Linked DNA regions of Homo sapiens. The protein of the gene in region 1 interacts with the protein of each later gene in a pairwise test. Each region holds a gene or a part of one and is shown in the gene's direction. Other genes may lie near its edges. The genes, in order: NLK, NDOR1 and QRICH1.

The links.
Region 2: the proteins of NLK (region 1) and NDOR1 interact in binary tests that used the Homo sapiens proteins (3 or more experiments, as listed by UniProt).
Region 3: the proteins of NLK (region 1) and QRICH1 interact in binary tests that used the Homo sapiens proteins (3 or more experiments, as listed by UniProt).

What each region holds. Positions count from the first base shown.
Region 1 is NC_000017.11:28,043,129-28,054,601, forward strand, and holds part of NLK (serine/threonine-protein kinase NLK), read left to right. Parts: coding exon 1-203; intron 204-209; exon of another isoform or gene 210-3,703; intron 3,704-4,788; exon of another isoform or gene 4,789-5,798; intron 5,799-11,473. UniProt on the Homo sapiens protein: Serine/threonine-protein kinase that regulates a number of transcription factors with key roles in cell fate determination. Positive effector of the non-canonical Wnt signaling pathway, acting downstream of WNT5A, MAP3K7/TAK1 and HIPK2.
Region 2 is NC_000009.12:137,210,706-137,219,861, forward strand, and holds the end of NDOR1 (NADPH-dependent diflavin oxidoreductase 1), read left to right. Parts: intron 1-1,796; coding exon 1,797-1,894; intron 1,895-3,074; coding exon 3,075-3,173; intron 3,174-3,261; coding exon 3,262-3,363; intron 3,364-3,498; coding exon 3,499-3,708; intron 3,709-3,864; coding exon 3,865-3,986; intron 3,987-4,092; coding exon 4,093-4,313; intron 4,314-4,389; coding exon 4,390-4,497; intron 4,498-4,701; coding exon 4,702-4,816; intron 4,817-4,953; coding exon 4,954-5,100; intron 5,101-5,193; coding exon 5,194-5,312; intron 5,313-5,361; coding exon of another isoform or gene 5,362-5,388; coding exon 5,389-5,483; intron 5,484-5,566; coding exon 5,567-5,711; 3' UTR 5,712-7,291; coding exon of another isoform or gene 7,292-7,897; 3' UTR 7,898-8,656; downstream 8,657-9,156. Other genes in the region: ring finger protein-like, read left to right, coding at 7,292-7,897. UniProt on the Homo sapiens protein: NADPH-dependent reductase which is a central component of the cytosolic iron-sulfur (Fe-S) protein assembly (CIA) machinery.
Region 3 is NC_000003.12:49,054,233-49,066,226, reverse strand, and holds part of QRICH1 (transcriptional regulator QRICH1), read left to right. Parts: intron 1-8,336; coding exon 8,337-9,365; intron 9,366-11,994. UniProt on the Homo sapiens protein: Transcriptional regulator that acts as a mediator of the integrated stress response (ISR) through transcriptional control of protein homeostasis under conditions of ER stress.

The sequences.
Region 1 (11,473 bases):
AACCCTGGGCAACAACAGCCATATTTCCCATCACCGGCACCGGGGCAGGCTCCTGGACCAGCTGCAGCAGCCCCAGCTCAGGTACAGGCTGCCGCAGCTGCTACAGTTAAGGCGCACCATCATCAGCACTCGCATCATCCACAGCAGCAGCTGGATATTGAGCCGGATAGACCTATTGGATATGGAGCCTTTGGTGTTGTCTGGTGAGTATCCAAAGAAAAACACAACCTCTCATGGTTTCTTCTGTTGGTTGTCATTGGATGAGTCCATCTCTAATGGTTGTCTCCATGTTGACCAAGGTGCAGCAAGCTTCTCAACCCAACTGTAGGAAGCCACCCTCACTTATGTGGTAAAGAGGCCTAATGCATTGGCTGTCTAGGCTCATGGCAAGTTTTGGTGGAGCGCCTTCTCATGAGCAACACACATAAGTGTGCTGTCTACCAAACTTTTCTATTAGAACCTAAGCAAGCCACTGAACACAGGATCAGTAGATGAATGTATGCAATACTAATTCCTACGAAGACCTTGGTCATCTCGTGTGTTTGATTCAGTGGCCCTGTGGCATTAAGTGTTAGCACCTGATCCAGACTGAATTCCTTTATAATACTCTTGTCATTAGGATATACTTTGCATAACTACTTTCCTGTCCTTTCTGTCTTTTCACTTATTTTGTGATCTTGATCTCCAGAAGAAAGATAGGATTCATAGTTGAACCAGTTAAGATCATTGCTTGAGTGGTTTATTTTAAACCATAAAGCTACAGTTGAGAAGTATGTAGCTGTAGCCTTTTGATAAGAATGCATTAAATATAGCATCACACATGAGTACCACAAATGAGGTTAGTAGACTAGCTATGCAGTGGCCCACATTCAGTGTAATGTTTTAGTGTCATTTAGTGCCTCTTAAGTTGCTGTTATCTGTTGGTCAGTTGCTGTAGTAGGAAATAATACTTTTTTAACAAATGACCCTACCTTTGCTAGTGCTAGGATATTTGTAAAAGCCTAAGGGCTTCTTAAATATAACATTTTGGTCTATTTGGTCTAACCTTAGAAAGATTAGTAGTTTATAATAAAATATGTTTGTTCCTATCAAAACTAGAATGAACTGGGTTTTCTCCCAAGGACTAATGATTCCACTTTGGATAGATGAATTGATATTTTCAGTGCATTCAAAAATTGTTACTCCCGAGAAAAGCGCCCATTACCACAGGAAAATGAACTCTTTGGAACTAGCCCGGTAAATATCTCCTTTCGTCATTGTTTTTGAGGCTAAAATTGATGGGTGCATTGTTTATGCATTTTAACTGGCCATCTTATTTATATTTCAGATTTGATAATCTAGGCTGCTAAGTGATCTCATCCATTTTTTAAAAAAACTAGTAGAGTCCAGTGTTTTCTCAGCTAGTCCCCAAGGAAGTTTCTGCTGCAGCGTGGTCCTTTCTTCAAGGTGTGTGGGATTCAAGGTGGAAAAGAGTATAGCTGGTAATGGTGCCTTGGTCATTCTGCTCAGGGACCTGCCTGTTCCTGCCTTCCTCTCTTCCCTTCCACAGACTATCTCAGAGATTTAACTGTGAACTTATCCTTGCCTAACTCTTGAGGATTTCCAAGCTTTGGTTGGGGGATGGAACAGACAGGAAAACGGTTGTTCCTTGGTTTAAATTTTGTCATTGATTTACTAATAACTTTTAGCACTTGTTTGGATCTTCTTAGATCTGGATGCTTACTTTCTTTTTTAGTGCCTTACATACAATGCTAAAAACTAGGGATACTGAAAGGGAAATGGGTTGCAGCATTCTTGAATATATTCAAAAGGCATTTTTCACTTACATTTCTATCAAAAAGTGATGTGACTTGTAGCAGTTTTTATTTTATTTATTTATTTTTTTAAGGAAGGGGGCAATAAAGAACTGGAGTGCTGAAACATCTCACACAGCAAACGTTCTGCTAGTGGGTACTATGAATCTTTGATATCTGAAAGCCCACATATATTTGGTTTGAAGCCATTCTAGAGGTTTTTAATTGATTGACTGCTCTACCACCTATGGAGTTTGTCTCATGTACTTAAAGTACACCTCTGTGCACCATCTTACTTCAGGTTTGTCTTGTGTCACTGACTACATTCGTAAGCCCCTTGAGGGTAAGGATTGTCTACTGTAGTAATCCTTTTCTCCTCAGCGCCTAGCACAGTGCTTTGGCATCTTTGCTGCTTGGTTAATTGATCTAGTCAGGTCCTTCTTTGTTTTGGCTTAAACAACAGAAAATTATTTCTCACAGTTCTGGAGGCTAGAAATCCAATATCAAGGTACAGGTTTGGTTTCTTTTGAGGCCCCTCTGCTTGGCTTGTGGATGGCCGTCCTCCTGTGTTATCACGTGATTCGGGTCTTTGTTTTTTTAACCAAGTTTTTCTAGTTAACTGCATTGAGTGTTTTCATCAGCTGTTACAGGTGAAATACAATTTGGTATGAAAAAGGAAAGAGTTCCAGGTGTATGTTTTAGTATGCAAATGCTTTTCTATTTTTATATTTACATGTCAATGACTTGCTGTCTGAATTCCTTATTATATTTGAAATTTAACTGTTGTATGACCTAAGTAAGACTGTTTAGAGATTTGAAAACCAAACTACCGGGAATTGCACTAATATTCTGAAACCCAAGGTAAAGATATTAGTGAGGTTTTTTACTTTTTAACTGAAACAGAATGTATCTTTTTAATTTAGGAAGCACCTTATGAATTGGAAACAACTTTTTTCTAAAATGATTATAATGGAACATAAAAATGTTCTCCCAGTGATGCATCCTTTGATTGAAACCGCCATGTAACTAACTACCGGGGTATTATAAGATTCACTTAATTCAAACATATATTCATTTAATGCACTTTGCAAGTATTCTTCTGGAATAGCATATGACAAGAAACTGTATTTGCCCACATTTCCTTGGGGACATACACCCAGGGGTACTAACTGATGGCTAAAAAAGTGGCATGCAATTTTGAGAGAGATTGTTGTTTCTCCATGTAGACAAGGAGAGATATTTGTAGAAGTGATGCAGCATTTTACCAGATTTATCACTGAACAATTTAGTCTAGCTGACTTGATTTATCTTTCTGTTGAATTTAACTAGTGGAATAACTTATCAGTATTGGACAGTTGTGTAAAAGTAGTGAATTACTCATTAGCTTGCTGGTAAGGATGGTGCTGTGACAGTTCAATTAAGGTTTCATTAACAACTGTCTGCTGTATTTTATCTCAAAGTAAGAGTTCCAGTTTACCTGGTAATGTGATTGTGGGATAACCTGAGATAACATTTGTTGCCACTGATAGAATGTTGTTTATGGGTTATCAAGATATCATATACAATTTGACCTTCTTTTTGAGACATTACAGCCTCCAAACACCCACATGGACATTTTCATAATGCAAAAACAAAACACAAAGCAACCCACAAATAGTAACTTCAGTCATTTGGTGAGTAATATAAATCTACCTTTTTGTCTGCAGTTCACATTTGCCAGAGGAAAATGCTGTGGTTAAAGATGTAACAACTTTGGGACAAAGAGTTTCAGGGGCTCATAATTTTGAGAGATGGAGGAAGTTGACCGCATGAGAGTGGTTTGAGGATCGCTGTGCCTAGACCGTTTTTGACATTGGCAACTTAACATATCAGAGATGGAATTAATGGCACATATTGCCACCTTGGTAAAAGTGAGTCTGGGAAAAGACTTTTTTATAAAATTAGCATTTTGGTTTGTGACTTGCCTGATTAATTAAAAGATCAAAAATCCTGGGATTCACTTGCTCTGTTGCCTTTGTGTACTCCAAGTAATGTTGGAGGTCTTTGAATTTTATTATTCTAATAACTTCAGCAGGTTACTTTTATCTGTCTTTCAAAACTGTAGTGATAGTTACTAGCTCTGTGATCTCGATAAATTATTTGACTTCTCTGTTCCTCATCTATAAAATGGGGATAATAATAGTACTTATCTCAGGATTGATGTGAAGATTAAGTGAGGTAATTCTTGTAAACCAATGATTACACTGTCTAGCACACAGTAAGCATCAATAAATGTTAGTTGTTTTTATTGTAGTTATTGTTGGTAGAAAAATCAAGCTGTTGTGTTAATGTGCATGGAAGTGTCTTCATAGATTGTCAGATTTATCAGGTGAAATCAGCATGCAGACTATTTTTGGAGGCATGACTCTAAATAACGTAGCGTGTCCCCTCAGTTGTACTGTATGTCAGGGAGATTTGAAAATGGTTGAATTTAAAGCCAAGGGGAAAATACTCTGTGCTGTCCTGTCAACTAATTAAAAACAAATAAAAATAATACACATTTGTATGGACTTTGTAGGTGTTTTAGTCAGATCATCTGCACTGTTTTAGAAAGTATTATGGATTTATATACTGGGAAATTAATTTTTTCTTTTCAGAATGTAACAAATGAAAGACATCCTTATTGTCGAAGTAGAGATTCACTTTGCTTATGTTTGGATGAAAAAGTGTGAATTGCTAAAGATCCCAGTGAGGTGGGAGAAATATAGTGATTTAACAAAAAAATTACTCAGTATAAGCCCTTGTGCATGGTAGAGATTGTCTAGCTTGCTCATCTTGTGAACATGAGAGGCATCTTTTTTTCTTATGTTTTGTCTGGTCCTCTTACTCCACATAACAAACTAATTTGGAAAAATGCAGAATGCTTTTGGGATATGTTTGGGGAAAATCCTGGAGTAAGTTGCATCAGAAAGAGTAGTATACTAAAGGGTATTTTGTTATTAACTGTGTTTTACAGGTTGAGAATCTGTAGTACTGAGAAGTTTCTCCACTATCAGCCGAGATTAACAGCCACAGCTGGATTCTTTGGGGGCTCTGCTTTGTGAAAAGAGCTTTGAAGAAGCAGAGCCTGCACCATAAAAAGGAAACGGTTGCTCTTCTAGACATAACAAAGCATCCGTATGAAACTAGAAATGTGGAAATCTGTATTGTTAATTTTAACTACAAACGAACTTACTTTTGGAAATTACAGGTTCATGATCATAAAGTAGATAAAGAGTAGAGAATAAAAGTAACAATCTGATGATTCTGCACCCACTTCTTGGTGGTTGAAACTCCATAGCCTATAACGTTGCAAGTCATTTTGTACTTAGACTCCTGAAAAGATTATCCAAATTATGTTCAAAAAACCACAGCACAAAAAATAAACTTGTTTTATTCTTGGGGAGAAATTTCATGTTATACTGTCCAATATTAATTTAGAAAAAAAGACAGTTTTTTTTTTTAAGGCATTTCAGAAACATTGCCCTTTCAAGCAAGTTAGAACAATATCCCTCAACATTAAATACCATCTTTTTAGCCATCAGTACCACTGGGCATGTGTCATAAAAGAGAAATGGGGGCAGATATAGCTCCCTTTCATATGCTATACCAGAACAAAAATTTGTAAAATGCATAAGTGCATTAACTGAATATGTTTGAATTTAAATTCTGGGTTTTTACCTTCAAAGCACAGGCAGCTGTAGATACAAAAAGTCCTCTAATGGAGTACTGGAATGTTTCATTGTCTTCACAACTTGGAGTGTCAGAGTTTTCTCTGCCTTCTATATTGTAAAACTGAGTGACTATTCTTGGTCGTTTTTATTAGATTTATTGATGTCCAAGCAATACAAGAATTAACTGTTCATATACTGTATGTTTCCTTAACATGCTTATTTGGTTTCTTTGATGGAGATTGTCAAGGCCAAAGAAACTTTTTCATTTGTCATCCAACCAATAAATGGACAGAAGCTGTTAGAAGCTCTTTAATTATGCGTCTCTTTGGGTTTTAATTCTGAGTCCCTGTGCCTCTGTGCTACTCCAGTGAATTATTTGTTGATTGGGCCATCTAATACAGGTCAACAATAACTAAAATAGCTTGTCAGTGTGATCCTGATATTGCTTGGAAGTAACAGAGTGTCTGAGGCAACAGTTGTAACACTGTCAGTGAGCACATAACAAGTCATGATAGACATAGTCAGTAGTTGTAAGGTACCTAGTGCAGAAACAGAAAAAACTGGTACTCTGGCATTATGGAAAGATGACTTCTAAGTGAACTCTACTGAGATTGAACTTTAACTCTTAGTTGTAATGGTGTGAGTAGAGGGAGTATATATGGGGATGTCTGCCACTCATAATGATTGGTGCTCTTTACCTAAACCCAGTTTTGAAATAATTTGGCTAATTGAGTCATATCTACTATGAGGCAGTGAAAGTTTTTAACACCTTTGGAACTCACTAGTCTATATATTTTTATTGTCACTTCGCTGTGGACCAGCACTTTTGCAAGCACCAAATGGGGATATTTAGTCTTATAAATAATTTTGCGAACCTCTATTAAGCTGCTGCTGCTGTTGTCTGTATTGTGCTTAGTACTGAGGTATAGGGATGTTTAAGTCACCATATTGCTTTGGAGGAGTTGACAGTCAAGTAAACAATATGAACAATGAAACATGCCTACTCTCAGGGTGTCCTCAGCCTTGGTGGAGAGGTGAAACTAAATTTGAAACCATTAAATAAAAACTTAAGAATATATTATTTTCAGGCCAGGCATGGTGTCTCACGCCTGTAATCCCAGCACTTTGGGAGGCCGAGGAGCGGTTCACCTGAGGTCAGGAGTTCAAGACCCTCCTGACCAACATGGTGAAATCCCGTCTCTACTAAAAATGCAAAATTAGCTAGGTGTGGTGGCACATGCCTATAATCCCAGCTACTTGGGAGGCTGAGGCAGGATAATCACTTGAACGCAGGAGGCAGAGGTTGCAGTGAGCCAAGATCGTGCCGTTTCACTCCAGCCTGGACAACAAGAGTGAAACTGTGTCTCAAAAAATATATATATTATTTTCACTTGTTCTTACAATATTCAATTATTGTATGTTACTATTTGCCAGGCACTGTGCTGGAGATAAGGATTAAAGGTGATTATGACCTACTGGGTGAAATAGATTTGTAAATGGATTATTATAATTCATTGCCATAAATGCAGCAATAGAGATAGTCCCTGGACATTAAGGGCGTGTAGAGGAGGGATTTCTATGGAAGGTCAGGATGCTTCCTAAAATAGGTAATTCTTCAATGAGTTTTAAGAATGAGAGTCAACCAATGGGGAAGGGCAGTCTAGGTGGAAGGGCCTATATGCAGGAGACTACAGGGCTGGAGATGCTGAATGTGCAGTGCAGTGGGTGGTAGGAAGTGTAAGCTAGAGCTCAATCATGAAGAGGTTGGAATGTCATGCTTGAGGCACTAAAAACAGCTTTTTATTAATAAAGCATATGTGGACATATAGCACATAAACAGTTAAATAGCATATCTGTGGTATTAAGATTTTACGAGGGGATGATTAGGAAAATAGCCTAAAAAGGCTCCGTAGGCGGGCAATGATGAGAAAAGGTTAAAACTGCGAATGGCAACTACTGAAAGTTTTTAAGTAAGAGAGACTTCGTCAGATTTAATTTTTTTTTTTGGATATGTAAAATAGAAGAGTAGAGAGAACTGAGATCTGTCTGAGTCTTAGGGAATGTTCTCAGTTGTAGGTGGAAGAAGCTACTGGAAGCAGAACTAAAGGGCAGTTAGGAAAATGTGTTCACAATGATTGACAATCTAAGTATGGCAGAAGATTGTTAGGAAAATGGGAGTGATCTTTGGTGCTGATAAAAAGTCAAAGAAGGCCGGCCATGGTGGTTCACACCTGTAAACCCAGCACTTTGGGTAGCTGAGGTGGGCATATCACTTCAGCCCAAGAGTTCGAGACCAGCCTGGACAACATAGTGAAATCTCATCTCCACTAAAAGTACAGAAAAAAAAAATTAGCCTGGTGTGGTGGCACGCACCTGTAGTCCCAGCTACTCAGGAGTCTGAGGTTGCAGTGAGCTGATATCACACCACTGCACTCCAGCCCGGGCGACAGAGTCAGAACCTGTCTCAAAAAAAAAAAAAAAAAAGTCAGAAAATTAAGATGGAGAAAAGGCCAAAAGGCCATTGTATTTAGCCTGATAGTAAATAGATCATTGATGGCATTTGAGAGAGTGATTGTGTTTGATTGATTCTAAAGAATGTCTTAAGTATTCAGTATTACTTTTTACAATTTTTTAAAATTATTAATACAATTCTTCCAAATCTCATTTGTTTGTTTGTTTGTTTGTTTGTTTGTTTTTAGTTTAATAAACCAGAGAACTTGATGTTCAAGGTGCCATTTCCTTGGGAAGGATTTTTTTTTTTTTTTGAGACAGAGTCTTCCGCTGTCACCAGGCTGGAGTGCAGTGGCATGATCTTGGCTCATGCAGCCTCCACCTCCCAGGTTCAAGGGATTCTCCTGCCTCAGCCTCCCGAGTAGCTGGGATTACAGGCACGTGGCACCACACCCGCCTAATTTTTGTATTTTTAGTAGAGACGGGGTTTCACCATGTTGGCCAGGATGGTCTCGATCTCTTGACCTCGTGATCGGCCTGCCTCGGCCTCCCAAAGTGCTGGGATTACAGTTGTGAGCCACTGCGCCCGGCTTTTTTTTTTTTTTTAAACAATGGGGTAATAGATTACTAAACTAAACTTGTTAGGAGACAAGGTTCTGGTCCTAGCCTTGCTGCCAACAACCCTGTGACCTTGGTAAAGTTATTTAAACTTTCTGAGCCTTGGTTTTCTCATTTATAAAATCCTGTGTTTCCTAAGATTCTATTATAAAATGATATTAATATTTGTTGGAGTTTGCTGGTGACCACAAGACAACTTTCTCTCTTCAGGACTACAGTGTTGAATAGCTTCTAAAATTGTTTAAAGGAGGAATGAGATAAATGTCACCCTGTTCCAGAGTGGTGACTTTTATAGAGTTTTCTAATTTGGGATTAGATTTTAAATGTTCATTTTTTTTTCATCAAGAGACTTGTTTTCTTCTATTACTGAGTTATTGGTAAGGATTATACATGTAGTTCAGCTGTGGAGAAGAGCAGGCCTGTTTGCAAATGAGCAATTTCTTCTACATGTCCATTTGATACTACTATTTTCCTGATAATATTTACCTTTTTAGTGTTTTAGACTTTAAAAACTTGCTTAGTTTCTTATAAGTCTTACAATAGTTTTCTTACAATATTTTGAGTGATTTTTAAATTTTTAAATAAAATTTAATGTTCAGTATTTTGTCATCTTTTGTGTGTGAGTAATCAGGTAAGATGATTTGGGAGCCAGTGCTTACATTAATTTGCAAGTTTCTTTAAAACAAATTTCTTTCCAGGAGTCTCTTTTAAATTCTGAATTTGGATAAGAGAGTTACTAGTTTGCATGTGGGCCTCCCAGAAAATGAGCTTTGACACAGCTTTCAGGCTGTAGTAGTTTAGGGCTTACAGTGCCCAAAGAGGGAGAGTGACTTCCTAAAGCTCTTGTCCAAGAGGAAGGGAGCATTTTTGCAGACACCCTCAGCAAACCAGCAGTGCTATCCAGTAAATACATAGTGAAAGTATGCAATCTTAAATTTTCTAGTAGCCACAGTAAAAAACTGAAAAGAAACAGGTGACATTAATTTTAGTAATGTATTTTAACTCTATATCCAAAATATTGTCATTTCAACATGTATTCACTATAAAAATTATTAATGATCTATATTACTTTTTTTTCATACTGAGTCTGCAAAATCACTATGTATCTTCATGCTTAGAATATGTCTCAGTTTGGTCTAACCACATTTTAAGTGTTCTGTAGCCACACATGGCTACTGACCAGCACCAGCATATTGATCTCTGGTGTTTTTTTTTTTTTTTTTTTGAGACAGTCTTGCTCTGTCACCACACCTGGCTATTTTTTTTATTTTTTTGTGGAGATGGGGTCTCACTTTGTTGCCCAGGCTAGTCTCAAACTCCTGGGCTCAAGCAGTTTGCCCACCTTGACCTCCCAAAGTGCTGGGATTACAGGCCTGAGCCACCGCACCTGGCCTCTCTTTGGCTTTTGTTGGATTACATACTCATTTCTGAACCAGTCACTGTCAATGAAGGTAAGATTACTTTTGGAGCAATCAGATCCACTTCTGGACCTGGAGATGGAGTCAGTTTTAAATGGGAGGGATGAATACCAGCAGTAAATGCCAGGAATGCAGTCATTAATGACCAAGATACTGCATTTGTCTGACTTGTGTCAGACTCAGAAGAACTTGAGTGGGTATATTTATGGAACAAACTGGAATAATGATCTCTATAGAGAAGTCCTGTCTGTCCTGAGTTATTTGGAGGCATTTTTCCTTTTCTTTTCTGAAGCTTTGTTTGCCTAAAGTAGCAGAAGGTAAATTTGGTACCTGATCGTTGCCATGTTTGCTTTCCTTCCCAGTTAGAGCAGATATCTCCTATTGATTTCTCTTTTTATCCTCTCCGTATTGTGGTTTTGTTATCTGGATAAGGTTCTCAGTCTTGTTTTCAATTTAAGTAGTATAGAGCTCAGTAGTGTCAGGCAGCAGACTTCTTACAGGGGAATGGACAACACAGAAACTTTTTGTTTATCCATTCTTTGACCTAAAATTCTTGCTCTGAGCTACAGAAAAAAGGTGAAAAGAGACATTTGAACAAATAGATAAAATTAGTCATTTGACCCAGATTGCAGCTTTTCTTCCTGTCTGCATGGATAAAAATGATCCGTCAATTTACATAAGCAGGTGATTTTTCTTACATGCTAATTTTCTTAATGTACCATGGCAGAGAGTTGCAGATTTGCAAATTGTGTAAGTTAATTGAAATAAGCCAGGTGACTTTATTTCACTGTATTATCTTACCAGTACAAAAGTACCCAAAGGGTACAATTATCAGGTGATTGTCTCATTGCACATCTAAATTAACATGCAGCCTGGTGCAGAGGGTTTTTCCCCACTTTCTTCTCCACTTCCCTCTCTTTTCTAATTTTTTAAAATAGGAAACTTGATTTCTATATTTACTTCAATAGAGCTGGAAATTTAGTAATACAGATGCGGAGGAAATTTGAGCTTTATTAAAAGTAATCCAGAAGCTATAAAAATTGGCAAGTAATGTGGTTATTGTGCAGAAGAAGGGGCTTGGTTTGGGTTTGAATTGCCTCAGAGAATTATGTGAGCATCTTCAACCATGTTTAATTGATTGGCTTCCTCTGTGTTCATTTTCCCAGGTTCTGCAGGTTACAGTAATTGGGGTTATCCTGAAGTTAACTGGGTGTATACCATAGCCAGCGTTCAAAGTAAATATTGACAGGCATTCTTTTAAAAACACAAGCTAATTAATTATAACACTGTTTAAAACATTTTAATAAAATTGAAATTTTTGAAAGGTGCAACAGTTGGTTATAGGGATTCTTTGCAGAAGATTTATGAGGACAAATAATGTCGACCAACAAAGCACCTTTCTTTATTAAGACTTTCAATATTAAACTTAATAATTAATGTTACTTAATTTCTCAGATGTTATAATATTCACTTAGTGATATATACAGGGATTAAATTATAC
Region 2 (9,156 bases), on another chromosome or scaffold:
GCGTGGTGACACACACCTGTAATCCCCACTACTTGGGAGGCTGAGGTTGGAGGATCGCTTGAGCCCAGAAGGTCAAGGCTGCAGTGAGCTGTGATTTCAAGACTGCATTCCAGCTTGGATGACAGAATGAGACCCTGTCTCAACAACAAAAAAGGCCGGGCACGACGGCTCACGCCTGTAATACCAACACTTTGGGAGGCCGAGGTGGGTGGGTCACTTGAGGTTAGGAGTTCGAGACCAGCTTGGCCAACATGGTGAAACCCTGTCTCTACTAAAAATACAAAAATTAGCCGGGCATGGTGGCACGCACCTGTAATCCCAGCTACTTGGGAGGCTGAGGCAGGAGAATCACTTGAACCTGGGAGGCGGAGGTTGCGGTGAGCTGAGGTCGCACCATTGCACTCCAGCCTGGGCTACAGAGTGAGACTCCATCTCAAAAAAAGATGAGAAATCCTTCTAGAAAGTATGACAAAAAGCAAGATAGAAAATGGAAGGAAGCAGATACCAAAATTCGAAGATAATTCCAGTGGCCTCAGAATGAGAAGACAATGGTGGAGAGGAAGTTATCCAGGAAAGTAATGATGTCTAGAGCGGGGTCTGCGGCCAGAGAGCCCCATGCCCAGGAAGGGCCCTGCTGAGAATGAAAGGGCTACCCCCGGGGCATGTCACTGTGGGTTTAGCCTCTGGGGACAGAGTGCCCTACACACCCCAAGGGCAGCAAGTGGGGCCCTGGCTTTTCAGTGGTGGTGCCAAGCCCAGGACAGACCCAGCCGCATGCCAGTCGAGTGAGGGAAAAGTCACAAGAATGTTCTCTCCAGAACCCTTTTCTCGGGAAGGAGGAAGTTCACCAAACGGAGCAGGGAAGAGAGTCTTTTGGGATTCAGGAAGCAAGGGTGTCTCAACAGCAGGGCGCTAGGGAGGGTCTCGGGGGCAAGAGGCTGGGTACATTTGCTCGCATAGCGTGGCCCAGAGAGGCAGCTGATGAGGCAGTGAGGTCCCGGGAGGCCAGGGGTGGTCCAGGGCCAGGGTCAGAGCTGTGGGCTGACAAGGCCAGGGCCTCCCTGTCTGCTAGCCTCCATGCTTGGCCACGGGAAGGGGAGGTGGGTGGGCGGCGAAGACCACGCACACAGGCCACCTGGGATCCAGGTAGGGAGGGGGCAGTAGGTTCCTTGGGGGGGCCTCTGATCAAGCTGGGAGGACACCGTGGAAGGCACGGTGTGGAACCAGAGGATCTGGACCCTGTTGGCTCGAGGTCCTGCAGCCACGGAAGGAGGGGGATGTGTCTCAGCGACACTGGAACCTCAGAGGGCCGAGTGTGAGAGCCCTTGGGATGGACCTCAGAGGTCTGAGTATAGGAGCCTCTGGGACAGACCAACTCAGGGAGTGGAGGCCCACGCTCTGGCTGGGAAATGACAGGTGGAGGTGAGGGACCCCTGGGGCGGTGGACAGTTTGGAGACCAAGTGCAGAGCTGCTCCTGGCAGCTCAGAGCCTGGGGCAGAGGAGGGTGATGTCCCAGGAAGGAAGCTCCACGCAGGCCTGTAGAGCACAGCAGGGTCTGGCTCCTGTGGGCAGGGTGGGACCTGGTCTCCCTAGACGCTGGACCAGCCCTGCCTCCTCCCGGTGCCCATCATCCTGCAGGCTGGACCTGGGCCCTGCCTTTTGGTCAGATAGGTCCAGTTGTATTCTGCCCCCATCCTACCCACCTGCCTGTTCCCCTGAGACCCTCCCCTCACCCCCTGCTGTGGGGCTAGCCTAGAGGTCGAGGACTCTGACTCAGAGTTTCCTCCGGCTGTAGAACTTCTGGAGGTTTATATTCCGGAAGAACCTGCCCTCCACTGCCCTCTGTCAGATGGACTTTGCCGTCCTGGGCCTCGGGGACTCCTCATACGCCAAGTGAGTAGGGGATGGGACAGTGGGCGGACGGAACAGTTCTGGGGGTCGAGCAACAGGTGTGCTGGCAGAGGACCGAGACCAGCTTCCAGGGTCGGCCCCTGCGCGCCTCAGGGCCCTCGCAGTGGTACTGGCTTCTCCACAACGCTCCCTGGTGGGCACCCCAGGCTTCACGCTGCGGGGAGGGCACAGAGGGGAGCAGGCAGGGTGGCAAAGGGCTGGGCTCCAGCCACGCTGACGTCACACAGGCCTACCTGGCGCCGGTCCCCACTTTTACAAAAAGGCGTGCTGTGAAGTGTTGACGACTTTGAGCCTGGAGGAGGACCCCGTATGCTCCTGCCACCCCAGAGGCCACCTCTGCCTTTTCTCCTGGGCATTTTCACAGTGCTCCTCTGCACCCTAAGCAAGGAGTGGCATGTTCAGTGTGCAAATGGCATCTTTAGACCCCACAACGGTGAAAACCCCGACTGTCCACGTAGGGCCCAGGTCCGCTGAGCACCGAGCATCAAAAGCCGTTTGCATAGCCAGGTGTCAGTCATTTCAGATGAAAAAGAACGGGAAGATCGGAGACAGCTCCCCCCGGTTCTGCCGGGAGGTTTTGTTCCGTGCGTGACGTAGGTCCGTGCATGACGTTGTTTCCTGCGTGACGTTGTTCTGTGTGGGACACAGTGTTCGTTCAAGAGAGGGAGGGAGGCCGCTGCCGACAGCGTTCCCAGGGAGGAGCGTGACCCAGAGCCAGTCATGCCTCGGAACCAGAGTGAGAAGAGAAACTGACCCCCGGGAAGATGCCTGGCTCTCTCCCCAGCACAGAGTTTCTCAGCTGAGGAGTGACCCACATCTTGGCTGGGGGCCTGGAGGCCTCAGCTGCCTCAAGTCCCTGCCCAGGGATGAGGGCCCATCAGTGGGACGAGGCCGCCTGCTCCCACCCACACAGGCTCATTCTCTGCGAGCAGAGGACCTGCTGCTTGGCACCCTGGCAGCTGCCCTGGTCTCGGCAGCCCCTGGCGTGTGGAGGCCCTGCCCCCTCCTAGGGTGCGGCCAGCGTGGAGTGTGTTTTCCACCCGAGGGAGGCCCTCCCCAGGCTCCACTCTTCGCCCGGGCTCCACTCTCCCGGGTTCCACTCTGCCTGGGCACCACTCTCCGCCCGGGCTCCAGCCCAGGACCAGCCTCACTGTCTCCACAGGTTCAACTTCGTGGCCAAGAAGCTGCACCGACGGCTACTGCAGCTTGGGGGCAGCGCCCTCCTGCCCGTGTGCCTGGGCGATGACCAGCATGAGCTGGGGTGAGTCTGCGGGCGTGGTACCCGCCTCCACAGTCTGGTCTGGCCACACGCAGGGTCCGCTCAGGCCAGCGCACGTGCTCCCTCCCAGGCCCGACGCTGCTGTGGACCCCTGGCTGCGAGACTTGTGGGACAGGGTTCTGGGGCTGTACCCGCCGCCTCCGGGCCTCACTGAGATCCCTCCCGGAGTCCCGTGAGTGTGGGCCCCGGGTCACCCACAGGCGCAGCAGACCCAACCTGGCCTGGGGACCTCGCCCTGGGTCCCTCCCGTGTGGGTGGGCGGCCCCTGGGGAGTGGGTCCTGGTCTGACCAGCGTGCCCTCCCACAGCCTGCCCTCCAAGTTCACCCTGCTGTTCCTCCAAGAGGCACCCAGCACGGGCTCTGAGGGGCAGCGGGTAGCTCACCCCGGCTCTCAGGAGCCCCCGTCAGAGTCGAAGCCCTTCCTAGCACCCATGATCTCCAACCAGAGAGTCACCGGCCCCTCCCACTTCCAGGACGTTCGGCTGATTGAGTTTGACATCTTGGGCTCTGGCATCAGGTGGGGACTGCTGGGGACCGAGGAGGGCAAGGTGAGGTGGGCCGTGGGTCTGGGGTTCGGAGGAGGCTGGGCCGGGCTGCAGGGGATGACTTCTATCCGGGGCCCCGACATCCTCCCTGCGGCGTCCCCACAGCCCTGGTGGCTTCTTCCACACAGCTTTGCTGCTGGTGATGTGGTGCTGATTCAGCCCTCCAACTCGGCTGCCCATGTCCAGCGGTTCTGCCAGGTGCTGGGCCTGGACCCTGACCAGCTCTTCATGCTGCAGCCGCGGGAGCCAGGTGAGCCCAGCCTCGGCCACCCTGACTCTCTGCCCTCTCCCGTGCCCTGGGCCCCCACCCCAAGGGCTCCGCCGCAGCCCACGGAGGCCTCCCACTCACCCTGCAGATGTCTCCTCCCCCACGAGGCTGCCCCAGCCCTGCTCCATGCGGCACCTCGTGTCCCACTACCTGGACATCGCCAGCGTGCCTCGCCGCTCCTTCTTCGAACTCCTGGCCTGTCTATCCCTCCATGAGCTGGAGCGGGAGAAGCTGCTGGAGTTCAGTTCTGCCCAAGGCCAGGAGGAGCTCTTTGAATACTGCAACCGGCCCCGCAGGACCATCCTGGAGGTGAGATGGGAGGGCGGCAGGCCCAGCCCCTGAGCTACAGCCACGCTGCAGCCACCCTGAGACTCTCTTTGCCTAGGTGCTCTGTGACTTCCCGCACACAGCTGCCGCCATCCCTCCCGACTACCTGTTGGACCTCATCCCCGTTATCCGGCCGAGGGCCTTCTCCATCGCCTCCTCGCTGCTGGTGAGGGGCCTGGTGGTTGGAGCCCAGGACCGGCCCTGGGAAAGCTGGGACCGGGGCTGTGGGGTTTTGTAAGCAGGGGCTGCCCTCTGACCAGGTGACGTTCCCCCAGTCGGACTGCCTCTGCGGGAGGTAGGTGGGGCCCACGGCCCAGGCACAGGTGAGGGCAGCCTTGTTCCACCACCCCCACCCCGCCGTCCTCCCCAGACTCACCCCTCACGGCTGCAGATCCTCGTGGCTGTAGTGCAGTTCCAGACTCGCCTCAAGGAGCCCCGCCGGGGCCTCTGCTCCTCCTGGCTGGCATCCCTGGACCCTGGGCAAGGTGACCCCTGCTCCCAGGGTGGGGGCCGTGGGCCCATATCCCCTTCTCTCCCATGCTCATGCAAATGCTGGGCTAGGGCCCCAGCAGACTCAGCACAGGTCTTTGATCCTCTTCATGCCACCTCCTTCCTGCAATAGGACCTGTCCGGGTGCCCCTCTGGGTGCGGCCTGGGAGTCTGGCCTTCCCAGAGACACCAGACACACCTGTGATCATGGTGGGGCCTGGCACTGGGGTAGCCCCCTTCCGAGCAGCCATCCAGGAGCGTGTGGCCCAGGGCCAGACTGGTGAGCACCCAGGGTCTCCGGGCAGGGTTGTTGCCAGGGCTCCCCAGCTGAACCTCAAGGACCTGTGGCCAAGAGCACCCTGTATTTCCCTAGGAAACTTCTTGTTTTTTGGCTGCCGCTGGCGGGACCAAGACTTCTACTGGGAGGCTGAGTGGCAGGAGCTGGAGAAGCGGGACTGTCTGACCCTCATCCCTGCCTTCTCCCGGGAACAGGTGTGTATGCTCAGGGGCTGGGAAAGGAGGGGAGGGAGCTCCGGCTCAGCCCCCAGCCCTGTTCTCTGCCCTACAGGAGCAGAAAGTATATGTGCAGCACCGGCTCCGGGAGCTGGGGTCGCTTGTGTGGGAACTGCTGGACCGCCAGGGTGCATACTTCTACCTGGCAGGGTGAGCTGGCCTGCGTGCAGCAGGAGTGGGCCCAGCCCCTGAGTGCCAGGCCTCATTGCGCCTTCTGCGACCTGCCCCTCTAGCAACGCCAAGTCCATGCCAGCGGACGTCTCGGAAGCCCTGATGTCCATCTTCCAGGAGGAGGGTGGACTCTGCAGCCCGGACGCAGCCGCGTATCTAGCCAGGCTCCAGCAGACACGGCGCTTCCAGACAGAGACGTGGGCCTGAGGCCCGCGGCTGCCCGTGCCCCCTCTGACAGCCATCCTCCTGGGAGCCCAGGAAGGCATCCACGAGGGAGCTCCTGGCCAGCAGCCGTCATCCTCTCGGACCAGCCAGCTGGTCCTCTGGGAACAGCCAGCTCCCGAGCACAGCCGCACTCCTGTTGACCCTGGATCCCACCCTTTGAGCCTGACCCCACTGCAGCCTCTGCCCAGCCAGCCCTGCGCTCCCCCACCCTGACAGTGAGCTGTGTCCTCGTCCCCCCACCCCCTTCCCAGTCAAGGTGGTGGCCTGGGCCGCTCCACCTCACCGGTGCAGTGACCCAGGACGGCATCAGCAGCCCAGTGAGCACCAGGGGTGGCATAGGGCACCCATGAGGCTGCGCTGCACTCCTCTGCCCTGGGGCCACCTCGGCTGCTGCAGCCTGCCCAGCAGCACATTCCAGTCACTGCCCCCGCACTCCCACAGGGCTCAGGCTGGGCTCAGAGGCCACTGAGATGCCAGCTCCTTGAGAGCAGTGGGGGTGTCCCAGGCCAGAGCAGCCTCTTCCTCTCCTGGTCCCAGAAAAACCCTTGCAGTAAATGGTGGCCTCTGGGTGGTTACTTCTAGCGCAGGCTTCCTTCCTTCCTCTAGCTCCTCCCGGTGCCCTGGGTGCTGGGTGCTGGATGGATGGGCGTCCTCTAGCTCCTCCCGGTGCCCTGGGTGCTGGGTGCTGGATGGGTGGGCGTCCTCTAGCTCCTCCCGGTGCCCTGGGTGCTGGGTGCTGGATGGGTGGGCGCCACGGTGCACCCTTGTTGGGCTGCCTGTGCCCGAGTGGCCTCTGCAGCTCTTATGTCTGCCTCTAATGGGATGTGCGCCCTGACTGCCTCGTTCTTAAGGGCATAGTGGGTCGGCTAAGATCTGATCGCCAGGACTGCGTTCTGGGCAGGTGCTGGGAAGGCGGAACCAAGCCGTCCGTGCCGCTAGGGAGCCGAGACTGCCGGAAAGAGGAGCGGCAGGAGGGGGCGTGGTTGTGCAGCCCCACCCCCGGGAGGGGCTTTAGGCACTGGGAAGGAAAGTCCTGTTGGAGGAGTTCGGTGGCTGTTCACACCCGCCTCGCTGTCTTGGAGTCTTGATCTGTCGTCGGCGGGTCGCTGGCACAGGACTAAACATGGCTGAGGCTGGGCTCCAGCCAGATCTGGCTGGGGACAGCACCGCGTGGGCCCAGGATCCACCCAGAGCAGGCAGGCCTTGCTGGGGCCCCAGTCAAGTCCACTTCCAGTGAGGAGAGCCAGCCGGGAGGTCAGTGCCAGAGCTCTGGTGGAGCCCAGACCCTGCCTTCCCTGAGGGCCGCCCCTGTCGCCGCCCTGGGGTCCCTGTCCTCCTATCCTGACTCCTGCCCCAGGGCCACCACCCCTGAACTGTGCCCTGGGGCCCCCACCCTCCACCTGGCCGACTCCAGCTCTGGGCCTGTCAGTCCACCTGGGTCCTCTCTGGGCCCTGAGTGCCTGGACCCTCTGTGCCAAGCACCAGCAAGCAAAGGGGATGACCTTGGGCACCCCCAAGGTGCTGAGACTACAGCCAGTGAGCCCCTGCTGGGGGCCAAAGCCATGGAGGGTGCCTGGGCCCTTCCAACCTGGAAGGAGGAGGGGAGAGAGCAGGCAGCAGGGCAGGGGGAAGAGGAGGAGTGCCCGATCTGCACAGAGCCCTACGGGCCCAGAGAGCGCCGCCTGGCCCTGCTGAACTGTAGCCACGGCCTGTGTGTGGGCTGCCTGCACAGGCTGCTGGGCTCGGCCTCCAGTGCCGACCTGGGCCGGGTGCGCTGCCCGCTGTGCCGCCAGAAGACGCCCGTGCTGGAATGGGAGATCTGCCGGCTACAGGAGGAGCTGCTACAGGCCGACGGGCCCTCACGCCAGCCCCGCCGAGAGGCCCCTGCATCCTATCACCGCAACCCTGGGCCCTGGGGCTCCCTGGAGCACCGCTACCAGCTGCGCTTCCTGGCAGGGCCCGTGGGCGGCCGGGGCTGCCTGCCCTTCCTGCCCTGTCCACCCTGCCTGGGTGCCCGGCTCTGGACCCTGCGGGAGCGGGGACCCTGTGCCCGCCGCCTGGCGCTGCTGAGCCTGCTGGCCCTTGAGCTTCTGGGGCTGCTGCTGGTCTTCACGCCGCTCCTGCTGCTGGGACTGCTCTTCGTGCTCCTGGACCGCTCTGGCCGCTGAGCAGAGCCCAGGACAGCCCCGCCGCCAACAGGCCAGGGGGCCCAGACTGGCCCACGTCCCCATGCCTGGGTGCTGTGAGGCCTGATGACCAGGCTGGAAAAACCCAAGGTTGGGTCCAGGGCAGTGGCCTTCAATCAAGACCTCCCATTGCTGAACCCACAACCAGGGCTACCCAGAGGCCTGACCCTGCCAGAGTCCATGGCTGCACTGCTGCCCAGACACTAGCTGAACCCAAGGACACCAGCGCCCAAGGACAGCTCCTGGAGGAGGCCAGCCCAGCAGGAAAGTCTGTGAGCAGGACCCCATTCACCCTGCGGCAGACGGGCACCGTACTGGCCACGGGCTGACGCCGGCCACACTTCCCCTCCGAGGGCCAGCTGAGCACAGCAGGCATGAAAGCAAACAGAGATACAGCAGTGAGTCAGTTCCTTGGAGAGGGCAGGGACTCCGCCCACCCTGTGTTCAGATAAGGGCCAGTGTGTGTCCCTGAAGGTCAGGCCAGCCGGGGGAGGGGTCCATGCTGCGAAAATTCAGCCTGCAAAGGCTCCTCTCCCCACTTGATCAGGCCCAGACCAGGTGGGGGTTGGCGCTGGCCTGTGTTGCAGGGGACAAGGGCCCACCCAGGCCTTGGAACATAAGCTCTGCCCCTGCACACCCTCATGTCACCACACCTGGGATGGAGACATCAGGTGGCCCAGCGAGAGATGGAGGACTGATCCTGGAACGTGAAGCAGCTTTCAATAAACCAGCTCCTGGGGATGCCATTGTTACTACTTGTCTTTGTTACCCCATCTTCACCATCTGGGCGGGCTTTTTTTTTTTTTTTTTTTTTTTGAGACAGAGCGTCACTTAGTCACTCAGGCTAGAGTGCAGTGGCACGATCTCTGCTCACTGCAACCTCCACCTCCCGAGTTCAAGCAATTCTTTTGCCTCACCCTCCTGAATAGCTGGGATTACAGACATGCACCACCACACCTGGATAATTTTTTTTGTATTTTTAGTAGAGAAGAGGTTTCACCACGTTGGCCAGCCTGGTTTTGAACTCCTGACCTCAGGTGATCCATCCGCCTTGGCCTCCCAAAGTGCTGGGATTACAGGCGTGAGACACCGCACCCAGCCTGGGGCGGGCTCTTCCTCCCACCCAAGTGGTCCAGGTGCCAGACAGGAGGCGCTGGGTCCTTATTCCCCTACCACCATTTCAGCCAGTCTTTGTCCCTAACTCCTGCACATGCCCAAAGGCTACTCCCACACAACCCTGG
Region 3 (11,994 bases), on another chromosome or scaffold:
AACCTCTGCCTCTTGAGTTCAAGTAGTTCTCCCACCTCAGCCTCCTGAGTCGCTGGGACCACAGTTGGCTCACAACCACGTCTGGCTAATTTTTTTGTATTCTTGGTAGAGACGGGGTTTCACCACATTGCCCAGGCTGGTCTCGAACTCCTGAGCTCAAGCAGTCCACCAGCTTTAGCCTCCCAAAGTGCTGAGGTTACAGGCATGAGCTACCATTCCTGGCCAGAAGTGATTCACAAATGGTAGTTCAAGAGACTCGTAGGGGCCTGTAATCCCAGCACTTTGGGAGGCCAAGGCAGGCAGATCATGAGTTCAGGAGATCGAGACCATCCTGGCTAACACGGTGAAACCCCATCTCTAATAAAAATACAAAACAAAAATTAGCGGGCGTGGTGGCGGGTGCCTGTAGTCCCAGCTACTTGAGAGGCTGAGGCAGGAGAATGGCGTGAACCCGGGAAGTGGAGCTTGCAGTGAGCTGAGATCACACCACTGCACTCCAGCCTGGACGACAGAGGGAGACTCCGTCTCAAAAAAAAAAAAAAGAGAGAGACTCCTGGTAGCCTCCAAGCACCTTTTAGGGTTCCTCAAGGTCAAAGCTGTTTTTATTACAATGCCAATGTATTAATTTGCCTTTTTCACTTTCATTCTCTCCTGACCATGTACTGGAGTTTTGCAGAGGCCATGTGTGATGTATAATAGCACAACAGATTGAGTGCGGAAGCAGATAGGAGAATTCAGCTACCTTATATTAAGTCAGCCATTAAATAGGTTTGCAAAAATGGGTCAGGCGCAGTGGCTTACGCCTGTAATCCTAACACTTTGGGATGCCGAGGTGGGCAGATCACTTTGAGGTCAGGCGTTCGAGAACAGCCTGGCCAACATGGCAAAAACCTGTCTCTACTAAAAATACAAAAATTAGCCGGACATGGTGGCATGCCCCTGTTATCCCAGCTACTTGGGAGGCTGAGGCAGGAGAATTGCTTGAACCCAGGAGGCAAAGGTTGCATTGAGCTGAGTGAGCCAAGATTGCCTCACTGTACTCCAGCCTGGGCAACAGAGTGAGACTCCATCTCCAAAAAAAAAAAAAAGAGGTTTCCAAAAATGTAAAACAATGCAATTCTTATTATAATTATTTTGGCAAATAGTTATTTTTCATGAGAATATGTTATTTATGTTAACATATAATGGCTTTATTTTTGTTTGTTTTTTTCTAGAACAACTCTTGCTCTGTCCCCCAGGCTGGCATGAGTGACACGATCTCCGCTCACTGCAACCTCTGCCTCCTGGGTTCAGGCTGTTCTCCTGTCTCAGCCTCCTGATTAGCTGGGATTACAGGCATGCACCACCACACCTGGCTAGTTTTTGTATTTTTAGGACAGACAGGGTTTCACCATCTTGTCCAGGCGGGTCTCGAACTCCTGACCTTATGTGACCCTGCCTGCCTTGGCCTCCCAAAGTGCTGAGATTATACGCATGAGCCACTGCATCTGGCTTTATCTGATTTTTAATTAATTTTTTTTGTTTTAGTATAGACGGGGTTTCACCGTGTTAGCCAGGATGGTCTCGATCTCCTGACCTTGTGATCCACCCACCTTGGCCTCCCAAAGTGCTGGGATTACAGGTGTGAGCCACTGCGCCCAGCATGGTTTACAATTTTTTAAATTCCTAGTTTTGGGCCAGGCGTGGTGGCTCATGCCTGTAATCTCAGCACTTTGGGAGGATGCGGTAGGTGGATTGCTTGAGGATATGAGTTCAAGACCAGGTTGGCCAACATGGGGCAACCCCATCTCTACTAAAAATACAAAAACAAACAAAAAAACAGCCAGGCATGGTGGTGGGCACCTATAATCCCAGCTACTCGGGAGGCAGAGGTTAAGAGAATCGCTTGAACCCGGGAAGACAAAGTTGTACTTCCAAGATCACACCACTGCACTCCAGCCTGGGCGATAGACTGAGACTCTTGTCTCCAAAAAAAAAAAAAAAAAAAAAAAATTAGGGCCAGCCATGGTGGCTCACGCCTATAATCCCAGCACTTTGGGAGGCCGAGGCAGGCGGATCACCTGAGGTTGGGAGTTTGAGACCAGCCTGACCAACATGGAGAAACTCCATCTCTACTAAAAATATAAAAAACAAAAAACAACAACAAAAGAAAACCAGCCAGGCATGGTGGCGCATGCCTGTAATCCCAGCCACTCAGGAGGCTGAGGCAAGAGAATCGCTTGAACCCGGGAGGCAGAGGTTGCGGTGAGCTGAGATGGCACCATTGCACTCCAGCCAGGGCAACAGAGTGAAACTCCATCTCAAATAAAAAAAGAATTAAAAAATTAAATTCCTAGTTTTAATTTAGAGTACAAGTAAATATTACTAGATATAACCTATGTAAACAAGTTCTTTTGGGTCTTCAATATTTTTTGGCCAAATTCAAGTTTTTTGGTGTTAGAGTTTCACTTTGTTGTCCAAGCTGGAGTACAGTGGCACGTGCCGTTCATAGTTCACTGCAGCCTCAATCTCCTGGGCTCAAGTAGTCTTCCTTCCTCAGCCTCCCAGGTAGCTGAGACTACAGGTGTGTGTCCACGCCCAGGTAATTTTTAAAATTTTTTGTAGAGATAGGGGTGTCACTATGTTGCCCAGGTTGATCTCGAACTCCTGGGCTCAAGCAGTTTTCCTGCCTTGGCCTCCCAAAGTGCTGGGATTACAGGCATGACCACGATGCCCAGCCCCAAATTCAGGCTTTGACTAAGAAATCTTGAAAACTGCTGTTCTGCAGTAATTGGCTACATAGTTTCCTCTTATGTCTTTGGCATATAGCCCTAGTTCTTAAATTTGACCATGTAATTACACTGGAGGACTTGATAAAACCACTTCTTAGAATTTCAGAGTTAGTAGGTCTGGAGTGGTACCTGACAATTTGTATTTCTGAGTGCCTGGATGCTGCTGCTGCTGTTGGCATGGAAACTACATTTTGAGAACCACTGGTGCAAGGAAATAATATTTTACTTCATGGAGAGAAATAATAAACCTACTTATTTGAACACCTATTATCTGTAACTAAATATTATTTTATGTTTAAAACACTGTAGGGAAGTAGACATTCTCCCCTTTTATACTTACTGTACCTAAAGAAACTGTTTAGAGGTTAAATTTCCCCATGGATTCACAGGCAGAAAAGTGCAGCATCAATTCACATTGAAGTCTGTGATCTCAAAACCTGAGCCTTTTTTTTTTTTGAGACGGAGTCTCGTTCTGTCACCCAGGCTGGAGTGCAGTGGCGCGATCTTGGCTCACTGCAAACTCCGCCTCCCAGGTTCACGCCATTCTCCTGTCTCAGCCTCCCGAGTAGCTGGGACTACAGGCACCCGTCACCACGCCTGGCTAATTATTTTAATAGAAATGGGGTTTCACCATGTTAGCCAGGATGGTCTTGATCTCCTGACCTCATGATCCGCCTGCCTCGGCCTCCCAAAGTGCTGGGATTACAGGTGTGAGCCACAGCGCCCGGCCTTTTTTTAAAAAATATACTTAGTAACAGCTTTATTGAGATATAAGTTACCCATTTGAAATGTATAATTCAGGCACACTGGCTCACACATGTAATCCCAGCACTTTGGGAGGCCAAGGCAGGTGGATCACTTGAGGTTAAGAGTTTGAGACCAGCCTGGCTAACATGGTGAAACCCTGTCTGTGCTAAAAATGCAAAATTTAGCTGGGCATGGTGATGCGTGCCTGTAATCCTAGCTACTCAGGAGGCTGAGGCAGGAGAATTGTTTGAACCAGGGAGGCGGAGGTTGCAGTAAGCTGAGATTCCACCACTGGGCAACAGGGCAAGACTTTACCTCCCAAAAAAAAAAAAAAAAGCGACTACACCAATTTTTTCTTGTTTTTTTTTTTTTCTGAGATGGAGTCTCACTCTGTCCTTGACTGGGCTGGGTATAGTGGCGCCATCTCGGCTCACTAGCTTCCACCTCCCAGGTTCAGGCAATTTTGCTGCGTCAGCCTTCCGAGTAGCTGGGATTACAAGCATGTGTAACCACGCCCAGCTAATTTTTGTATTTTTAGTAGAGACAGGGTTTCACCATGTTGGCCAGGCTGGTCTGGAACTCCTGACCTTGTGTCCACTGGCCTCAGCCTCCCAAAGTGCTGGGATTACAGGTGTGAGCCACCGCATCTGGCCAACTACACCAATTTAACATGCCCACCAGCAGTTTCAAGTTGTCTATATCCTTACCTATACTTGTTATCTGTCTTTTTTAGATATAACTTATTAGATATAAAGTGGTTTCTCATTGTGGCTTTGATTGGAATTTCCTTCACAGCTAGTATGATATGGAGCAACTTTTTATGTGGTTCTTGGCCATTTGCATATATTCTTTTTTTTGGGAGATAGTTTCACTCTTGTTGCCCATGCTGTGGTGCAGTGGTGCAATCTCGGCTCACTGCAACCCCCACCTCCTGGGTTTAGTAGTTCACCTGCCTCAACCTCCCAAGTAGCTGGGATTACAGGCATGCACCACCATGCCTGGCTAGTTTTGTATTTTTAGTAGAGACGGGGTTTCACCATGTCGGTCAGGCTGGTCTCAAACTCCTGACCTCAGGTGATCCACCCACCTTGGCCTCCCACAGAGCTGGGATTACAGGCATGAGCAACTGTGCCTGGCCTCATTTTCTGCCTTCTTGTTTTCTACCTTTCTAATTCCTACTTGTGGTTAGGGTAATTTATCTATGTGTCTGATGGTAAAAGCTGTTTTTTAAAAGTTGCATACTATGTATTTTTTTCTTTTCATGCTCTTTTGCATGCTGACATAATAATAAGACAGTAACTGTATTGTTATCAGAAACATGTCATCCAGGTTATGGTAATATTGCTCAGATTAAATTATTGGGATTCTGTTTATTTAAATGCCTTTCCCATTAAACATATGTTAAGTAAGCACTCTAAAGCAGTGGTCCCCAACGTTTTTTGCACCAGGGACTCGTTTTGTGGAAGACAGTTTTCCACAGACATTGATGGGGGTGGTGCTTTGGGATGAAACTGTTTCACCTCACATCATTAGGTGTTAGATTTTTTTTTTTTTTTTTTTTTTTTTTTTTTTTTAAGATGGAGGCTCACTCTGTCACCCAGGCTGTGATGCAGTGGTGCTCTCTCTGCTCACTTCAACTTCCGCCTCCTGGGTTCAAGCTATTCTGCCTCAGCCTCTCAGGTAATTGGGATTACAGGCATGCACCACCATGCCTGGATAATTTTTTATATTTTTAGTAGAAGTAGAGGTGGGGTTTCACCATGTTGGCCAGGCTGGTCTTGAACTCCTGGCCTCAAGTGATCTGCCCTCCTCAGCCTCCCAAAGTACTGGGATTACAGGTGTGAGCCAATGCACCTGGCCAGGCATTAGATTCTAATAAGGAGCATGCAGCCTAGATACCTCACATTTGCAGTTCACGATAGGGTTTGTGCTCCTACAAGAGTCTAATGCCACCATTGATCTGACAGGAGGTGGAGCTCAGGTGGTAATGCTCACCTCTGTGCTGTGTCGTTCGCCTACGGACCAGTACTAGTCCTTGGCCCCAGGGTTGGGGACTTCTGCCCAAAAAATCAGGCTGGGGGCTGGGTATGGTGGCTCACGCCTATAATCCCAGCACTTTGGGAGGCCAAGGCTGGTGGATCACCTGAGGTCAGGAGTTTTGGACCAGCCTGGCCAACATGGTGAAACCCCGTCTCTACTAAAAATACAAAAATTAGGGCTGGGTGTGGTGGCTCACACCTGTAATCCCAGCACTTTGGGAGGCCAAGGCAGGCAGATCACGAGGTCAGGAGATCAAGACCATCCTGGCTAACACGGTGAAACCCTGTCTCTAATAACAATACAAAAAATTAGCCAGTCGTGGTGGCGGGTGCCTGTGGTCCCAGCTACTTGGGAGGCTGAGGCAGGAGAATGGCATGAACCTGGGAGGCGGAGCTTGCAGTGAGCTGAGATCACACCACTGCACTCCAGCCTGGGCGACAGAGCGAGACTTGGTCTCAAAAACATATATATGTATATATAAATTAGGTCTGGGCGTGGTGGCTCACGCCTGTAATCCCAGCACTTTGGGAGGCCGAGGTGGGCGGATCATGAGGTCAGGAGATCAAGACCATCCTGGCTAACACGGTGAAACCCTGTCTCTACTAAAAATAAAAAAATCAGCCGGGCGTGGTGGCACGCACCTGTAGTCCCAGCTACTCGGGAGGCTGACACAGGAGAATCGCTTGAACCGGGGAAGTGGAGGTTGTAGTGAGCCGAGATCGCACCACTGCACTCTAGCCTGGGCGATAGAGCGAGACTCCGTCTCAAAAAAAAAAAAAAAAAGTTAGCTGGATGTGATGGCAGGCACATGTAATCCCAGCTACTTGGGAGGCTAAGGCAGGAGAATAGCTTGAATCCGGGATGCAGAGGTTACGGTGAGCCGTGACTACCATATCACTCCAGCCTGGGGAACGAGCGAAACTCCATCTCAGAAAATAAATAAATAAGGCTAGGCATGGTGGCTCAAGCCTGTAATCCCAGCACTTTGGGAGGCCAAGGTGAGCGGATCACAAGGTCAAGAGATCGAGACCATCCTGGCCAACCAACATGGTGAAACCTCGTCTCTACTAAAAATACAGAAATTAGCTGGGGGTGGTGGCATGCGTCTGTAGTCCCAGCTACTCAGGAGGCTGAGGCAGGAGAATAGCTTGAACCCAGGAGGCGGAGGTTGCAGTGAGCTGAGATCATACTACTGCACTCCAGCCTGGTAACAGCGAGACTCTGTCTAAAAAAAAAAAAAAAAAATTAGCTGGGTGTGGTGGTGGTGTTCCTGTAGTTCTAGCTATTTAGCAGGCTGAGGTGGGAGGATCACTTGAGGAGTTTGAAGTTTAAAGTGCCCTATCATCTTATCACGGTACTCTAACCTGGGCAACAGAGCAAGACCCTATCTTTAGAGAAAAAAACGGTCCCTTGTGATGGCTCACGCCTGTAATCCCAGCACTTTGGGAGGCCAAGGCGGGCGGATCACGAGGTCAGGAGATGGAGACCATCCTGGCTAACATGGTGAAATTCCATCTCTACTAAAAATACAAAAAAAAAATTAGCCGGGTGTGGTGGCAGGCACCTGTAGTCCCAGCTACCCGGGAGGCTGAGGCAGGAGAATGGCGTGAACCCGGGAGGCGGAGCTTGCAGTGAGCTGAGATGGCACCACTGCACTCCAGCCTGGGCGACAAAGCGAGACTCCGTCTCAAAAAAAAAAAAAAAAAAGAGTGAAACTCCATTTCAAAAACAATTTTTAAAATGCTGGCCGTGGTGGCTCACGCCTGTAATCTCAACAGTTTTGGAGGCCAAGGTGGGCGGATCACTTGAGGTCGGGAGTTCGAGACCAGCCTGACCAACATGGAGAAATCCTGTCTCTACTAAAAATGCAAAATCAGCTGGGCATGGTGATGCATTCCTGTAATCCTAGCTACTCAGGAGGCTGAGGCAAGAGAATTGCTTGAACCCAGGAGGTTGAGGTTGCAGTGAGCCAAGATCATGCCACTGCACTCCAGCCTGGGCAACAAGAGCAAAACTCCGCCTCAAAGAAAATGGAAATAAAAATGCCGGCCGTTTCGGCTCACACCTGTAATCCCAGCACTTTGGGAGGCCGAGGTGGGTGGACCAGTTGAGGTCAGGAGTTCAAGATTAGCTTGGCCAACATGGTGAAACCTCGTCTCTACTAAAAATACAAAAATTAGCTGGGTATGGTGGCACATGTCTATAATCCCAGATACTCGGGAGGCTGGCTTCAAGAATTGCTTGAGCCTGAGAGGTGGAGATTGCAGTGAGCTGAGATGGCACCACTGCATTCCAGCCTGGGCGACACAATGAGAATTTGGGGAAAAAAAAAAAGAACCAAAGTTTTGATATTTCCTTGTTAGACTCCAGCATGTCTGTAATCCCAGCTACTCTAGGAAGCTGAGGCAGGAGAATCGCTTGATCCCAGCAGGCGGAGGTTGCAGTGAGCTGAGATTGCGCCACTGCATTCCAGCCTGGGCGACAGAGCGAGTCCATCTTAAAAAAAAAAAATTTTTTTTTTTGGTATTTCCTTTTTAGGCCCCAGTTAATTGTCTTGCTTGCTCTCTGGGGTGGATATATGTCCCTGTTATTGTAATGTGCTGCTGGACAATCCTGGATCTAGTCTTACGTATTGTGTCCTTCTCAGAAGCCTTGAGTATGCCAGTGTTTTCTCACATTTTGCAGGTCCCCTGTCTGGGATCTCTTTTCTTTCTTTCCTTGGGTACTGGATTTTCAGTGCTGCCTGGTTCACTCACTGATGAATCTTGTTGCTTACAGGTCCAGGTGCAGGTACAGCAGTCTCCGCAACAGGTCTCGGCTCAGCTCTCCCCACAACTCACCGTTCACCAGCCTACTGAGCAACCCATCCAGGTCCAGGTGCAGATCCAAGGCCAGGCACCACAGTCAGCAGCCCCCTCCATTCAGACCCCGTCTCTGCAGAGTCCCAGTCCCTCGCAGCTGCAAGCAGCTCAGATCCAGGTGCAGCACGTGCAAGCAGCCCAGCAGATCCAGGCTGCAGAAATCCCGGAGGAGCACATCCCACATCAGCAAATCCAGGCTCAGCTGGTGGCTGGCCAGTCTCTTGCTGGTGGTCAGCAGATCCAAATCCAGACCGTGGGTGCCCTTTCCCCACCACCATCCCAGCAGGGCTCACCCCGGGAAGGGGAGCGGCGGGTTGGCACGGCCAGTGTCCTCCAACCAGTGAAGAAGCGCAAAGTGGACATGCCCATCACTGTGTCCTACGCCATCTCAGGGCAGCCGGTGGCCACCGTGCTGGCCATTCCACAGGGCCAGCAGCAGAGTTATGTGTCTTTGAGGCCAGACTTACTGACAGTAGACAGTGCCCACCTGTACAGTGCCACTGGGACCATTACTAGCCCTACAGGAGAAACCTGGACCATCCCTGTTTATTCTGCCCAGCCCCGGGGGGACCCTCAGCAGCAGAGCATTACCCACATTGCCATTCCCCAGGAAGCCTACAACGCAGTTCACGTCAGTGGCTCACCCACAGCCCTGGCAGCTGTTAAGCTGGAGGATGACAAGGAGAAGATGGTGGGCACCACATCTGTAGTGAAAAACTCCCATGAAGAGGTAGTGCAGACCCTTGCAAACTCTCTCTTTCCAGCACAGTTCATGAATGGCAACATCCACATTCCAGTGGCTGTGCAGGCTGTGGCAGGCACGTACCAGAATACGGCTCAAACTGTCCATATATGGGACCCCCAACAGCAGCCGCAGCAGCAAACTCCCCAGGAACAGACACCACCACCACAGCAGCAGCAGCAGCAACTCCAAGTTACTTGTTCAGTAAGTGAAGACTTATCAGTAGGGCAGGCAGCCTGGTCCCTCAGGGCCCAGTGCAGCACAGAGCTTGCCTCGCAACCTCTGGCTTATTTACTGCTGTTACTCTTACAGTGATGCAGTATTTAGTATTTGGGAGAAGAGGGGGAGAAACATCACGTGAGGCTATGCAACAGAAAAAAGAGTTTATCCTGGTACCTGGAGGTAAATGAGATGGCCAGGAATTGCTTTGGAGTTTTGGAGACATTTTGGGTTTAAGTACCATGGACACTTCTTTGTAATCTCTTCTCAGGAAGAGTAAAGTTACAGGTGTAGATGAATGGGACACCTCAAGTGTGTCCCAGTGCTGTTTCCTTGTATCATAAGTAAATGGTTTTAGCAAAACACTTGTAGTTTATCACATAGATTACAAACTCATCACTGGAGAGGCTGTGAGATTGTTCATTCTGTTTTTCATCTTTGGGCACACAGTGTGGGTGAATTAGAAAAGCTAAAATAACTCATAAGGAGCCTGTTAAAAGTGATCACCATTGGGAGGCTTGAATATGCCGTCTATGTGGTGGGACCTCCCAAGAGTTTTTGTGTTACGGGGGCGGCCGGGCGAGGTGGTGCACTTCTGTAATCCCAGCACTTTGGGAGGCCGAGGCAGGCGGATCACAAGGTCAGGAGTTTGAGACCAGCCTGGCCAATATGATGAAACCACGTCTCTACTAAAAATACAAAAATTAGCTGGGCATGGTGGCAGGTACCTGTAATCCCAGCTACTCGGGAGGCTGAGGCAGGAGAATCACTTGAACCCAGGAGGCAGAGGTTGCAGTGAGCTGAGATTGCGCCATTGCATTCCAGCCTGGACAACAGGAGCAAAACTCTGTCAAAAGAAAAAAGTAGGGGCCAGGCACGGTGGCTCATGCATGTTACCCCAGTACTTTGGGAGGCCAAGGCGGGTGAGTCACCAGAGGTCAGGAGTTTGAGATCAGCTTGGCCAACATGGTGAAACCCCGTCTCTACTAAAAATACAAAAATTAGCCGGGTGTGGTGGCACACACCTATAATCCCAGGTAATCCTACTCAGGAGGCTGAAGCAGGAGAATTGCTTGAACCTGGGAAGCAGAGGTTGCAGTGAGCTGAGATCGTGCCACTGCACTCCAACCTGGGGCAACATAGCAAGACTTTGTCTCAAAACAAACAAACAAAAAAACTATTAGTGCTGGGTGCAGTGGCAGTTGCCTGTAATCCCAGCAGTCTGGGAGGCTGAGGTGGGAGGAATGCTTGAGCCCAGGAGTTTGAGATCAGCCTGGGCAATATAGGAAGACCCTATCTCTACAAAAATTTAAAAAATATAGTCTAGTGTGATGGCACATACCTGTGGTCCCAGCGTAGATGCGAGGGTTGCATGAGCCTGGGAGGTTGAGGCTACTATGATCATGCCATTGCATTTCAGCCTAGAGAACAGAGTGAGACCCTGTCTAAAAGAACTGATTGGTAAAATATCTGGTCCCGTTAGAGTGGGATATAGGGCCTCTGGTCTTATGGGACTGATGAAGGTGCTATGCCTCGGTGGGCATAGGCTCCTGAGCATGCATATGTTTGTGGGAGCTGGTACAAACAAGTTAGATAAGGGACTGCACTTGGAAACATGGGCTGTAAGTGATTAATTAAGCAAAGGTTGACCAGGTGGTTTCATAGAGGCAGTATCATATTATCCTAGGTGACATTGTTAAGGACCTGCTAAATATCTAGCTGTTGGGCCTAGAAATAGAATAAGAGAAGGTTTTTTGCTTCATATAGCTTAGAGTCTAGTTGTGAAAAGTAAGAACTCAGGATTTCTTTTCCTTCGAATTATTTATAAGGCAGAATAATTATGACATATACACAAAGACAAACTGGGAATTTAGAAATTCTAGGTTAAGAAGTCAACAGAGGTCTTTGTGGACAAAATGACGTTTGAACTGTAGTTTATTTATTTTTGAGACAGGTTGTTGCTTTGTTTCCCAGGTAGGAGTATGGTAGTGATCATAATTCACTGTAGCCTCTAACTCCTGGGCTCATAAAATCCTCCCGCCTCAGCCTCCCAAGTAGCTGGGACTATAGGCACAGACTACCACACTCGGCATATATATATATTTGTAGAGACAGGGTCTCACTGTGTTGCCCAGGCTGCTCTTGAACTCCTGGCCTCAAGTGATCCTCCCACCTTGGCCTCCCAGAATGTTGGGATTACAGGCATGAGCCACTGCACCCTGCCTTGAACTGTTGAACTGTAGTTTATAGTTTAGATAAACAAAAGAATGGAACAGCATAAATACAGAGCCAAGGATGGACAGAAGGGACATGCCCTAATGCAACTTGAGAAGGGAACTGTGAGAATGGAGTTAGTATTGAGGGGTGGGGGTGGGGTTGTTGCCTTCCCAAAGTAGAACTGAGTTTGATCTAATCTGTGGTAGGAAATCAGGAATTTCCTAGATTTGTGGTAACAGGAGGAATCAAGTAGATGTGTGTAGAATTGACTGCATATAGGAGAAACTAGCCAGTAGATTTGTAACAGGTCTCTATGCTCAGCTTTTGTTCACAGAGATGGAGCCCATTAGGCCTCCCCTAGCTCTCCTGGGCCTGATGGTCCAATTGCAGGTCAGTG